Regions from separate parts of the Homo sapiens genome. Here region 2 is linked to region 1. The links come from fine-mapping of genetic effects on gene expression. Tissue or cell type: whole blood. Region 1 holds a variant in brackets; the other region holds the start of a gene. All regions are shown on one strand. Distances are from middle to middle.

What was found. PIP is the estimated chance that this variant, and not a neighbour inherited with it, causes the effect.
Region 2: it holds the start of ZC3HAV1, and the variant in region 1 is fine-mapped to the expression of ZC3HAV1 in whole blood (INTERVAL, PIP above 0.99).

The regions. Positions count from the first base shown.
Region 1 is chr7:139,056,782-139,059,539 of GRCh38, forward strand. The region is part of intron 9 of ZC3HAV1 (zinc finger CCCH-type containing, antiviral 1); the gene reads right to left. Among named protein-coding and RNA genes, the nearest start is that of MIR10399, 14 kb to the left of the region's middle. The variant T/C (reference allele first, on the strand shown) is at 1,265.
Region 2 is chr7:139,108,552-139,111,309 of GRCh38, forward strand. ZC3HAV1 (zinc finger CCCH-type containing, antiviral 1) reads right to left here and starts at 1,169. Exons shown (of 13, transcript NM_020119.4): 1 at 473-1,169. The coding sequence starts at 780. RefSeq lists enhancers at 68-197, 778-877, 822-1,325, 1,118-1,277.

The sequences.
Region 1 (2,758 bases):
TGACACAAATCAACCAAACACAATGTACAGACCCTGCTTAGATACTGATTTGCAATACCTCAACTCTAAATAGTCATTGTTTAAGACAATGGGAAAACATAAAACGTGAACTGGGTATTAGATGATATTAAGGAATTATCATTAACTTTGTTACATAGGTTAATGATATTGTATTATGTTTTTTAAAACCTCTTACCTGTTAGGAAGACACCTAATATATATACAGGGAAATGATAACATGTATTGGATTTACATTAAAATATTCCAGCAAAAGAAAAAAAGTTAGGCCAGGTGTGGTGGCTCATCCCTATAATCCCAGCACTTTGGGAGGCCGAAGCAGGAGGATTGCTTGAGCTCTGGAGTTTAAGACCTGCCTGAGCAACACAGTGGGATCCCCCTCCCCATCTCTAGAAACATTTTTTTTAAATTATCCAGGTGTGGTGGTGCACGGCTGTAGTTGCAGCTACTCAGGAGGCTAAGGCAGGAGAATCACATGAATCCAGGTGTTTGAGGCTGCAGTGAGCCATGATCACACCACTGCACTCTAACCTGCATGCAGAGTGAGACTCTTTCTCAAAGAAAAAAAAAATTTAGAGGTGATGGTAGTAACAATATTGTTACCACTACTACAAATACGTTACAAAGATAGTAAAATATTGACAGTGTTTAAGTTGGATGATAGGTACTCAGGGGTTTATTATCAATTCTTTGTACTTTATGTTTGAAATTTTCCATGATCAAAACAATTACATTTTTTTTTTTTTTTTTTTTTTTTGAGACGGAGTCTCCCTCTGTTGCCCAGGCTGGAGTGCAGTGGCGCGATCTCGGCTCACTGCAAGCTCCGCCTCCCGGGTTCACGCCATTCTCCTGCCTCAGCCTCCCGAGTAGCTGGGACTACAGGCGCCCGCCACCACGCCCGGCTAATTTTTTTGTTATTTTTAGTAGAGATGGGGTTTCACCGTGTTAGCCAGGATGGTCTCGATCTCCTGACCTCGTGATCCGCCCACCTCAGCCTCCCACAGTGCTGGGATTACAGACGTGAGCCACCGCGCCCGGCCAACAATTACATTTTAAAAAATAAATGCTTGAAGGAAAAAACTCTTTAAAGAAGAAGGTGACTCATTAGAATGAGAAAGATTGGCCCCAGTTTATCTCTATTTTAAGGTCAGGTTTCCATTCTGGATTTGTATAACATGGGATAGACTGAATGAATATGTTGTAAGATGCCCATGAACAGTGACGTGTGCCGTAGTTCACTTCTATG[T/C]CCCACTGTAGTTCAGGATAGTACCCCAGCCCTTATTCTATCCTACAGCAAGTGTGTCTCCTTGGGCTAGTGAGAGCAGGATTAAATTTGGTTCTCTGCATGACCCACCCCCCACCCTCCCCCACTAACATGTTTTTCTAATTTATTTTTTTTATTCATGTGGCTGTTTATTATCACTATGTGCCATGCATTATACAAACTATTCCAAGACAGCCTGGGCAACCTGGAGAAACCGTGTCTCTATTAAAAAATAAAAAAATTAGTCAGGTGTAGCGGTGTGCACCCATAGTCCTAGTTACTTGGGTGACTGCAGTGGGAGGATCACCCGAGTCCGAGAGGTTGAGGCTGCAGTGAGCTGTGATTGCGCCACTGCACCCCAGCAACCTAACCCCCAACCCCCCCCCCCCCCACAAAAAAACACCAAAATATTTCAAGAGCTCTGAGGAGCTGATAATTGAGGTTGGTGGGGAGGGAGGGGGAAGGGAGGAGGAGGGAAGGTTGTGCTAGAGACATTTACATAAGTAACTGTATTACAAGGTAGAAGTGGGTAAGTACTATAAGGGAATCTCGAGTGTTGGAGAATTGGAGGAGAATCACAAGGAATGTTATAGTATGGGAAAGTGGCATTCCAGCTAAATCGTGAGGGGTGCTGTATTCATGTGAATGACGGGAAGGAGTATTCCTGGAGAGGGGAAGAGCAAATGGAAAAGCACGAAGCAACTCTGACATATGGAAGTTCTTGAGATCGACAATGGCTGACTACAGGAGCTATCTGGAAATGCCACAAAGCAATTTTTTCCCCTAGAAATACATGTGCACAGAAAGAACCATCCAGCTTGGCGTCAAGGTTTACTATGCTTTCCACAGTTCCTGCTGTCTGGAAGGGCCATAAAGCATGGTCTCACTAGTTGAGACTAACTGGGAGTATCTGAATTGTTAAAAAATCAAAATTACCGGAACTTTAAAAAAAAAAATGCAGTTTTGTTGCTTTAAGGAAAGACAGTTCCAACACACTTTTGTGAAGACATCCTGCCAGAACGATTGTAACGATTGTAACGAATGGAAAGCAGCTCTGATGATCTCATTCATTGGCTGAATGTGAACAGCCCCTCCCCATCCTCCTACTCTGCCTTTTTCCCCCACCTAACATTTGTCAGGAACTGAAATAGTTATTGCCTCATCCACCAGAATGTAAGCTCCCGTGAGGGCATGAGATTTACTCCTCTCTTCCCTAAACCCTGAAATATTCTTTTTACTTTATTAATTTGAATATTTAAACTACAGGAAGGGGCCAAGTGCAGTGGCTCATGCCTGTCATCCCAGCACTTTGGGAGGCTGAGGCAGGTGGATCACCTGAGGTCAAGAGTTCGAGACCAGCCTGGCCCTCACGGTGAAACCCTGTCTCTATTAAAAATACAAAAATTAGCTGAGCATAGTGCCATGTGCCTGTAGTCCCAGCTACTCAGGAGGCTGAGGCAGGAGAATCACTTCAAC
Region 2 (2,758 bases), 52 kb after region 1:
GGAGACGGACCGGGGGCCCAGGGCGGCTGGGTTACTGGCTCCGCCACGTCTAGGGAAGGAGGTAGTAGGGAGGGAAAGACTCAAGATACCAAAGACGGGAGGCTCTTTCCTTCCTTCCCAAACCTGCCTACCGCTTCTCTAGGCCCTGGCTGGCTCCAGAGCACTTTATTCTTCTGATTCGTGCGGGCGGGCGGGGAAAGGGGTGGAGGTTGAGCCTGGTCTCCTCCAGGCACTAGCATTTTAGCCATTCTCGAGAAAATGTCTGGAGGTGCCGGAAGGAAGGGAACTGCAAAGGTAGAAGCGCGGGCCCTGCAGAGGCTCCCAGAGGGGAGCAGAGAAGGGAGTGGCTGGAGGCGGAGGCTGTCAGGTGCGGGGTCCCGGCGAAGCCGTGCCCCTCCCAGAACATTGCCCGCCTGGACAGTCCACCCCGACCACGGCTGCGGACAGCGCCCCTCCCTCCGGGTGCACTCACCGCTCGGACTGCGAATAGTTGCACCGGCCCAGCAAGTTGAGTTTGCAGAGATGCAGGTTATCGCAGGGTCTCTGGCAGTACTTGCGACGGCAGACCCGGGCTCGAGTGGTGGCCACCACCGATCGGGTGATCCCGGCCTCGCCGCCGGTCTCCAACACCACAAAGCGGTCGGGCCCGGCCACCTGCAGCACCTCACAGAGCTGCGGCTCAGACAGCGCGATCTCCTGGAGCAGCGCGTCCAGGGCCATGCGGCCCCCGTGGGCGCACAGGATTTTGGTGATGAAGCAGCACACCTCCGGGTCCGCCATGGCGCGCTGGCTGTGCTGGCTCTGCCGCGGCGCGGGACTCGGTTCCGCGGAAATCGGAAATCGAAACTTACAAGTGTCCAGGGGCGGGCGCGGGCGGTGCTACTGCTGGGCGCGCCCGGAGTCAGCGAGGGCGCGCTCTCCGTCGCCGTTAGCCCAGCCCAGCGATCCACTCTCGGCTCTCAGGTCAAGAGGCTAGATCTCACCGACCGGGTCCTAGTGGCAGGTTTACAGCCGGCCGCAAGGGCAACTGGGTGGAAAGAAAGAGAACGCGCGGGCAAATCTGCTGGTGACCGCCTGGGGTGGCCCCCTCTCGGTTCTAGGCTCGGCGAGGGTGAGGTTCTCCAGCCGGGCTCCGCGAGCCTTCTTTAGAAAGAAGAGAAACTAAAAGCGATCTTGGGGCTCTGGCCGGTGTTTTATAAGCCAGCCGACTGAGGCGTGTGACGCAAGTCCTGAGAGCCCTGTTGAGGAGTGCGCACCCCACCCATTCCCGGAAAGAGCAGACCCTAGCGAGCGCTTCCTGCGAGCCGTGCGCTCTGCCTCTGTTGGTAGTGAATCTTCCCAGCAACTCCACATGGTAGATATTATTATCCTCACCCTGAACTTGAGGAAGTAACTTGCACGAACACGCACTGGCATCAAGCGGAGCCCAGATGCCACCGAGTTTCCCCAAATCGCGTCCCCAGGCCCCAGATCGTGGTACCCCAGGCCCCGATGTGCAAGTTTCTCCTCCACCACCGTGCCCTCTTAAAGAACAACGATTGCCACTCTCCCTCGTTTCTGCCTTCTCACGAACTTTTGGACAAACCACTTCTTGACATGGTCTTGCTTACCTAGAATCGCTAACTCGGTGCCCTGAACCACTGCTTGTACCTCAATCACGGTGGACATGCTAAGACATATCCCAAGATTTCAGATCGGTTCCTCCCCGTAGAGATTGGGACAAGAACTTTTCCACCGTGGGGACGTACTTTGACCCCCAGAGTTGACATAAAGATTGTTTTTAAGTGAAAACATTGAGCTACAGAAGATGTAGAAAGAAATCTTAATGAAACTTCCCTTATCTGACTAAAGCAAAACCTCCCGAAAACATGGTGCCATTAAAAGCCTCTCGGAGTATTCAGCTGCCAGGAAGACAGACTGTCCCATTACCATTAGCACCAAAAAACCCAATGGGCTGGGTGCTGTGGCTCAGCCCGTAATCCCAGCGCTTTAGGAAGCCGAGGCAGTGGGAGGATTGCTTGAACCCAGGAGTTCAAGACTAGCCTGGGCAACATAGTGAGCTCTCTTCAATAATAATAATAATAATAATAATAATAATAATAATAATAATAATAAAAACAACCCGGGCATGGTGGTGTGCAGCCGCAGTCCCAGCTACTCGGGAGCCTGAGGTGGGAGGATTGCTTGAGCACGGGAGGAGGCTGCAACGAGCCGGGATTGTGCCACTGCACTCCAGCCTGGGGGATAGCGCTGAGACTTTGTCTCAAAAACACAAAACAACCCAATCAAAACTTCCAAACTCTCCTACTGAAGCCCTAAAACTTTCCTTTTTGTTAAGTTGAGGTATATAAACCTTTACTTTTGAGTTTTCTGTTACTGGAAGCTCCTGCATGCATGTGTAAATAAACTTTGTCTTTTCTCCTATTTATCTGTCTAGTGCCAGTTAATTTTTAGGCCCCCAAAGACAGGACACAAGTTGAAGAGAAAAAAGGTTTTTTTTTCCAACATCTTCAAATAAAATAGATGGGTCATTTGATCAGATAAGAAATACATCTTTTTAAAAAATAATAGATTCTGGTTGCTAACTTAGAAATTCTTCAAAATGATTAATGAGAATTCTCCTCAGTTTTGTCATTCATGGTATATAAACCCTCTTTCAGGAATAGAGTACTTTGTTATGAAAACCAGCCAAACATGGGGGCCACATAGGATCATCTTAGGATGTCTAAGAGGGACATCTTGTTCCCTCTAGTTGCTG